2 separate regions of the Homo sapiens genome follow, and region 1 is linked to region 2. Evidence: fine-mapped expression QTL. A gene starts in region 2. The other region holds a variant in brackets. All regions are shown on one strand. Distances are between the middles of the regions.

Evidence for each region. PIP is the estimated chance that this variant, and not a neighbour inherited with it, causes the effect.
Region 1: its variant is the best candidate, but not a certain one, in a credible set for the expression of ACSM3 in whole blood (INTERVAL, PIP 0.51).

Annotation. Positions count from the first base shown.
Region 1 is chr16:20,664,733-20,669,130 of GRCh38, forward strand. The region is part of intron 6 of ACSM1 (acyl-CoA synthetase medium chain family member 1); the gene reads right to left. Among named protein-coding and RNA genes, the nearest start is that of ACSM1, 31 kb to the right of the region's middle. The variant T/C (reference allele first, on the strand shown) is at 1,700.
Region 2 is chr16:20,761,624-20,766,021 of GRCh38, forward strand. ACSM3 (acyl-CoA synthetase medium chain family member 3) reads left to right here and starts at 2,391. Exons shown (of 14, transcript NM_005622.4): 1 at 2,391-2,502. RefSeq lists an enhancer at 2,528-2,657.

The DNA.
Region 1 (4,398 bases), 97 kb before region 2:
AAATTGACCACAGGTTCAGTCATAAAGCAAGTCTCAATAAATTCAAAAAATCAAAATCTTACCAAAGTACATTGTTAGACCACAGTGCAAGAAAAACAGAAATCAATGTCAACAAGATCACTGAAAACCATATAAAAACATGGAAATTAAACAATTTTCTCCTGAATAACTCTTGGGTGAACAAGAAGTCAAAAAAGTTTCTGAAATTAATGAAAATGAAAATAGAGATACCATCTACCAAAATCGTTGAGATGCACCTGAAGCAATGTTAGAGGAAAGTTTATAGCACTAAATGCCTTCATTAAGAAGTTAGAAAGATCGCTAATTAAGAATCTAATATCACTTCTAGAGGAACTAGGAAAAAAAAGAACAACCAACAAACACCAAAGCTATCAGAAGAAAATAAATAATTAAAATTAAAGAACTGAATGAAATTAAGATGCAAAAGTTTATACAAAATATCAATGAAACTGAGAGCTTGTTTTTCAAAAGAATAAACAATATTGATAGACTGCTAGCTAGATTAACAAAGAAAAAAATGAGAAGATCAAAATAAGCCCAATCGGAAATGACATAGATGACACTATAAATGGTCCCACAGAAATATAAAAGATTCTCAGAGACTATTATGAACACACTGATGCACCTGAATTAGAAAATCTACAGGAAATGGATAAATTCTTGGGAACACACAGCCTCTCAACATTGAACCAGAAAGAAAGTGAAAACCTGAACAGACAAATTACAAGTTCTGAAATTGAATCAGTAATTACTAATCCCAAAAAGCCCTGGACAAGATAGAATCACAGCTGAATTCTAACAGATATACAAAGAACTGGTACCAATCCCTCTGTAACTAATCCAAAAGATTAAGGAGAAGGGACTCCTTTCTAACCATTCTATGAAGCCAGAATGCTTTTGGCACCAAAATATGGCAGAGATACAATGACAAAAGAAAACTCCAGGCCAATATCCCTGATAAACGTAGATGCAAAAATTCTCAACAAAATACTAGTAAACTGAGTCCTGCAGCACATCAAAAAGTTAATTCACCATGATCAAGTAGGCTTTATTCCTGGGATGCAAGGTTGGGTCAACATATGCAGATCAATAAACAGGATTCACCTCTTAAACAGAATAAAAAAGAAAAGCCATATGATCCTCTTAGTAGGTGCAGAAAAAGCTTTCAAAAAATCCAATCTCTCTTCATGATAAAGCCCCTCAAGAAATGAGGCATTGAAAGAACATACCTCTAAATAATAGCCATCTATGACAAGCCCACAGCCAGCATCACACTGACCAGGCAAAAGCTGGAACCATTTCCCATGCGAATTGGAAAAAGTGTAGGATGCCCACTCTCACCACTCCTATTCAACATAGAATTGGAAGTCCTACCCAAAGCAATCAAGCAAGAGAAAGAAATAAAAGATATTCAAATAGAAAAAAAGTCAAACTATCTCTTTTTGCTGACAATATATGATTATATACATTAAAAAACCCTAAAAACTCTACCAAAGGGTTCCTGGAACGGATAAACAACTTCAGTAAAGTTCCAGGATATAAAATCAGTGTACAAAAATTAGCATTTCCATACACCAACAATGTTCTAGCTGACAGTCAAATCAAGAACACAATCTGATTTACAACTACCACTAAAAATGAAATACCTAAGAATACATCTAACCAAGGAGGTGAAAGA[T/C]GGCTACAAAGAAAACTACAAAACACTGCTGAAAGAAATCAGAGATGACACAAATAAATGGAAAAAGATTCCATGCTCATATATTGGAAGAATCAATATTGTTAACATGACCATATTGCCTAAAGCAATTTATAGATTCAATGCTATGCCTATTAAAATACCAATGTCATTTTTCACAGAATCAGAAAAAACGACTTTAAAACTCATATAGTACCAAAAAGGGCTTGAATACTGAAAAGAACAAAGCTAGAGGCATCACGTTGCCCAACTTCAAACTATGTCATAAGGCTACAGTAACCAAAACAGCATGGTACTGGTACAAAAACAGACAAATACACCAGTGAAACACAATAGAGAAGTCACAGCTATAGCCATATGGTCTTCAACAAAGTGAACAAAAATAAGCAATGGAGAAAGGACTTCCTATTCCATAAATGGTGCTGGGAAAACTGGCTAGCCATATGTAGCAGAATAAACCTGGGCTCCTACCTTTCGCCATATACAAAAATTAACTCAAGATGGAGTAAGGATTTAAATATAAAACATTACACTGTAAATATCCTAGAAGAAAATCTAGGAAATACTCTTCTGGATATTAGCTATGGCAAAGAATTTATGGCTAAGTCCCCAAAACCAATTGCATCAAAACCAAAAATTAACAAGTGGGACCCAATTAAACTAAAGAGCTTCAGCACAGCAAAAGAAATTATCAAGAGAGTAAACAGCTTACAGAGTGGGAGAAAATATTTTCAAACTATGCATCTGACAACATCCAGAATCAAATATCCAGATTCTACAAAGAATTTAAGTTATTTGTAGACTCTTATATGTGATGTCTAATTAGAACTAATATCAGAATCTACAAAGAACACAAATCAACAAGTAAAACCCAAATAATCCAATTAAAAAATGGGCAAAGTACATAAACAGACACTTCTCAAAAGAAGACATGCAAGCATCCAACAAACATATGAAAAAATGCTCAATGTCATTAATCAGAGAAATGCAAATTAAAACCACAGTGAGATACCATCTCACACCTATCAGAATGGTGATTATTAAAAGGTCAAAAACAAATGCTGGTGAGGCTTTGGAAAAAATGGAATGCTTATATACTATTGATAGAAATGCAAATTAGTTTAGCCACTGTGGAAAGCAATTTGAAAATTCCTCAACAAACTTAGAACTACCGTTTGACCCAGCAATCCCATTACTGGGTATATATCCAAAGGAAAATAAATGGTTCTACCAAGAAGACACAGAGGCTCATATGTTATTGGCAGTGCTATTCACAATAGCAAAGACATCAAATTGACCTAGGTGCCCATCAATGGTGGACTGGTATAAAGAAAATGTGCTACATATACACCATGCAATACTACACAGCCATAAAGAAGAATGAAATCATGTCTTTGGCAGCAACATGGATGAAGCTGGAGGCTGTTATCCTAAGTAAATTTATGCAGGAGTAAAAAACCAAACATCATTTTTTTCTCACTTATAAGTGGGAACTAAACATTGAATACACATGGACATAAAGTTGGAAACAATAGATGCTGGGGATAACAATAGACACTATGAGAAGGGAGAGACAGGGAGGGGGTCGTGGGCTGAAAAACTTATTGGGTACTATATGCACTAGCTGGGTCATGAGAATATTCTTACTCCAAACCTCAGAATCATGCAATATACTCATGTAACGAATCTGCACATGCACCCTCTGAATCAAAAATTTAAAAGACTTTTTGTTTTAGTCTTCAATAAGATGGACTAATACAATATCTAAATTAAAAATTATTATGAATAATTCATAAAAATAGTAAGTGGGAAATAGTAATGCAAATGCTTTTTTGGTAAATTTGTAGAATTTTAAACTTTAAGCATTTACTAAGGCTTAAAATACATAAAGACCTTTTGGGACACTCTCTATAGCAGCGGAAGAATTAGGCATGAGGATGGGAAGGGTGGTCAGTCTTGTTTGTGGTGCTTTAAGTCTCAGGTGCAGAATGTGGTACAGAAAATAATGATGGTGACACAGGAGGAGGCATTGATATAGAGGTAGGTAATGAGATATGGGAAGTGCAGTTTGATGTTCTGGAGGAATGATCAGATGGGCTTTACCAACTAGCAGGTTGGAAATGTTTTGCTAGCCTGGGAGAATCAGCTTGGACCGAGAAGACTAGACCCTAGGTACAGTCCTGACAGCCACCTGCATTGATGTGCTTGCTGAGAAAAATGGAGGTGAAGGAAATTGCTTAGAAAGAAGAACAGTAAGGGCAGACCACTGGAGCACTGCAGTATTCAGGAGCAGGCTAGGTGAAGCAGAGGTGGCTGCAGCAAATGGAGGATGTTCTTTGGTGAAGTTTGGTATTAAGGTGGAAAAGATGGGTTGACCCAGTGTGTAGCAGGTTCAAAGGAAGGCATTTTAGGATAAGTACACTGAATATGTTTACGGACTGAGGGTGTAAAACTAGCGAAAAGTGAGAGACTGAAAATACAGGAGAAAATGCATAGTAGATTAAAGATTAATAAAGAAATGCTGTTTATCCAAGGCCAGGAGACAGAACTCTGCAGTGGTTGTGCAGAGCGGGTGGATTTTGAGAGGTGGAGGGCAAGGTCTGCCTCTGAGAGGGAAAGCAAGGGTGTGAGTGGAGACATAAAGAAAATGTTGGGGTGAAGGGACATAGACAGAAAGAATT
Region 2 (4,398 bases):
TGTCAGGCGACAATCAGGTGATGGTCAGGCGGTTATTAAACTGTCACTCTAAAATAATTGGTTGCAGTAGGTGCCAGGGAAAGGCAGTCTCCTAAGAGATAGAAAACACCTAAAGCTGGTGATCAGCAGCTTTCCAATAAGATCTCAGGAACTGGGCAAGTGTGCTCAAGCATGCGTACTAAGAGGCAAAATGGCAGATTTTAACTGGTATACAACCTTCCTCTAGGAACACTTGACTGGTAAGGGAAAAACGCCTCAAATGAGAATGTGCACAACTTCAGTAAAGACATTGCACATGTGGCCCCTCCCAAGTGCTGACAGGCCACTGCACGTGCAGACAGCCCATGCCAAGGAAAAAATCAAAGGAGATACAAAACCTCGGAAGCATGCCAATGTATAAAACGCAAAGTCAAAAGTCAAACAGGGCACCTGGATCTCTCAAGTTGCCTGCTTGCCCCTCTTCCTTTGGTTCCTGCTCTAAAACTTTCTAATAAACTCTCACTCCTGCTCAAAAACTTGCCTCAGTCTCTCACTCTGCCTTATGCCTCTTGGATGAATTCTTTCCTTTGAAGAGGCAAGAATCAAGTTATTGTAGATCCGTATGGATTCACCACTGCTAACATTATGCTGAATGGTATGTGAGAGTAGAAAAAAAAACACTGTTTTTTCCCTGTCTCTAATAATGAGCTTAACATCAGAATAGAAATAATAGAAGAAAAAAATCAAAGAACTGGAAGCCAGAATTTACTCAACCTGAACAAAAGAAAGAAACTAGAATGGGAAAAAAAAGAAAAAAAAGAACAGAGCCTCAGGGACCTGTGAAACTATCATAAAAGATCTAACATGGGGGCTAAAAATTTACTCCAAGAAATAATAGCTGAAAAGTTCTCAAATTTGTCAAGAGACATAACTATAGAATTCAGCAATACAGAAAAAGAAATATACAACAGGACCAAGCAAGGTTTATTCCAGGGAGGCAAGGCTGGTTCAATATTAGAAGATCAGTGTAATCTATCTTATTAACAGGCTAAAGAAGAAAAACACCACATGCTTATAGTAACTGATGCAGAAAAAACACTTGCCAAAATTCAACACCTATTCATGATAAAAACACTCAGAAAAAAATAGAAATAGAGGAGAATTTCCTCAACTTGATAAAGGGCATCTACACAAAACCTACTACTAATATTGTACCTAACCATGAAAGACTGAATGTTTTCCCTCTAAGATCAAAAGCAAGGCAAGGATGTCTGCTCTCATCACTCTTATTCAACGTAGAGCTAGACACTCTAGCCTGCGCAATAAGGCAAGAAAAGGAAATAAAACGCATATAGATCTGAAAGAAAGAAGTAAGATCTGTTTACTTATTTACAGGTAATGTGATTACACAGAAAATCCCAAGGAATCAACAACAAAAGACTCCTAGAACTCAAAAGTGACCAACAAATTCCTCTTTAAGTAAAGTTGGGTCTCTCACATGTAATTGAAAGAGTCCTTTATTTATTCACATATCCATCAACTATTTATTGAATGCCTAAAATTTGCCAGTAGCTATTCCAGGCAATAGATACACCATCAAACAAAAAGAGTTCTTACCCTCAAGGGTGATAGTAAGAGATGTAAAAAGTTAAAAAATGGTAAAAGAGAAAAAATGAAGAGTGCTACTTTAGAAAATGAGGTAAGGGAAGAGTTATTTAATAAGACACCTCAGAAAATGAGGAATTTGGCCAGGGGGATATCTGAGGAAAGAGTTCCAGTCAGTGGAAACTGTGAATTCAGAAAGCCTGAGGCTGAAACAGGCAAGTGTGTTTGAGAAAAAGCAAGGAGGCCGGTGGCTGTGCAGAGTGAGGCAGAGGAAGGAGAATGGGCTGTGGATCAGAGGACCCTGTGCCAGATCATACAACTCCTTGCAGTTCATGTAAGGACTCGGATTTTACCTGGAGTGGAAAAAGAAGCACTGAAAGATTTGAGCAGGGGAGTAACCTGATAGCGTTTATGTTTAGTCCTGCCACTTCGACAGATAAACGCACCAATGGGCTTGATGAGATTTAGGCCAACCCATAACCGCCCCTCAACTTCTTTCCTTTCAATTTCAAAACTCCTCTATGGCTTCCTCCATCTGTTCTTCCTTCTGAGAAGTGCTCTCTCTGCCCCTTTACAGAACTAACCACTTCGGCAACTCCTTGGACACTTTCCTTCTTGTTAATAATTTGCTTTCTCCGCCCCTCAAAAGCTTGCTGTTTCTGTAAATCATTACCTGTAAGAGGAACCGCTGGGAGTCCTGTAAACTTTAGCCCAGAGCTTGGCTCCTCCTCCAGAATGTCTCCACCAATCAAGGAAAGTGTTTTGGGCCAGTCTTGCTCCTCCGGATTGTCAGACTGCTCCTCCCTCTTCTTTAGACTGCCACGAGGAAAAAGCAGATGTGAGAACTCAAGGTTCAGGGCTGCTCTTCTAAGAAACAAGTCTGCCATAATCTCCATCTGTGTTGGAATCTGTTAACTAGTGAGTACCTCATCTCCCCTCCTGTGTAAGATTTCCTGAACTGGCACATCTGTTTTTTGAGCAAAGATAACAAACAGATGAACAAAACCAACAATCAAAAATGCTGTCATTAAAGTCTTGGGCAGCCAAAGTTTCTCTCAGAATTTCTCAGTTGTGTGATACTATCTATTAAGTGATGAGGAGTATGCACACACAAAAGGCTATAAATGTAGCAGCTGAGTTTTCATGTTGAGCCTTTTGGTGCTATTTGATTTTTTGAAAAACTATGTACATGTATTAAGTTGATAAATTTTTTTTTTAATTTTAATTGAACCAGATGCGGTGGCTCAAGCCTGTAATCCCACCACTTTAGGAGGCTATGGTGGGCAGATGCAGATCACTTGAGGCCAGGAGTTCGAGACCAGCTTGGCCAACATGGTGAAACCCTATCTCTACTGAAAATAAAAAATTAGCCAGGTGTGGTGGCAGGTGCCTGTAACCCCAGCTACTTGGGAGCCTGAGGCAGTAGAGTCACTTGAACCTGGGAGGTGGAGTTTGCAGTAAGCTGAGATTGCATCACTGCACTCCAGCCTGGGTGACAGAACAAGACTCCATCTCAAAAAAAAGACCAGGTAGTGGCTGAGATTTTCATTGTACTGTCTGCTTAGCTCCCCACCTTGCTCAGTGACAGATGGGAATCCATCTTCTGCATCATCCAGAAAGTATGTAAATTACTTCCAGGAAACTTTGGGAAACACAGATGCAAACCTAAGAGCAGCCAGTTTTCTCCTTTAGGTGGTCAAGGGCAGCTGCAAAAGTTCTGTATAGGAGGGGCTTCAGGCAGGGTCTGGTTGGGTTTGGAGACAACAGCAGTGAATTTACCTTGCGTTGAGGCTGTATATGTTAAACTACTGTTATTACTTGGATACTTAGAGGGAGGGATGTTTAGGGAGCTGTGGGGAGGCTAAAGCCCCCTTGGCTGTAGGGACAAAGAGCTTGCATTTCAGATGAGACCTTAAATACTTTCAGAAGCCTATCTGACCAGGGGTGGTACTGTCTTTCTTAGAAGAGTTTTCCTTACCAATGTTTCTGTGGCTCAGTATAAAAATCTGGAGTCACCCTGGGAAAGTTATCTCAGCAATTTTACCTACAAATAATTTTATAAACCTGGGAAATAGAAGTTGTAAAATGCTAAGATCGATGAAAAGGGAGGAAAAGAACTTTGTTGAGGAGAAGGTAATCTTATGGTTTTGATGAAGAGGATGTCGATATTTGCTTTTTGGTAGAACAGAATGGTTAGGTTCATTTTAAGCTCCAAATGACTGATCAATTTTCTTTTCAACATACGTTTGAAGGATTCTGAATGTGGTGTAGAGTATTGTATGGGAGCTAGGGAACAAATCATACTAAACTCTGATTCTATTCAGAATCAGCAAGCTAAGTATGATATATTTATCTCCAATCATATTAATATTTACATAATTATTTAATGTCTTCCTTAATAGTCTATAAGCTTCATGGGAGCAAGACCAGCCGTGTCTTGTTCACAGCTATATTTTCAGCATTTAGTACAGGTCTGGCATATACCAAGTGTTCAATAAATACACGGGTAATGAATAAATGCGTTGTCCAATTTAAATATGTGTGTCTGTTTGTGTATACTTCCTTGTCTGTAAAATGAAAATACTAATAAATAACTGCAAAATGCTTAACAGTACAACCACTTGCCAGATCTCAGCAAAAATGTTACGTCCCTAGAGAGACCTCCTAAAAGGTCCCTTTTCTCCCATTACTCTCTTTGTTTTCTTGCGTAACATCACATTTATTTATTCCCTTGTTTACTATATGTGTCTTTCTATGAGAGCAAGGAGGACCTTGTCTCTTGCATTCCCTCCTGTATCCTCTATGTCTGAAATA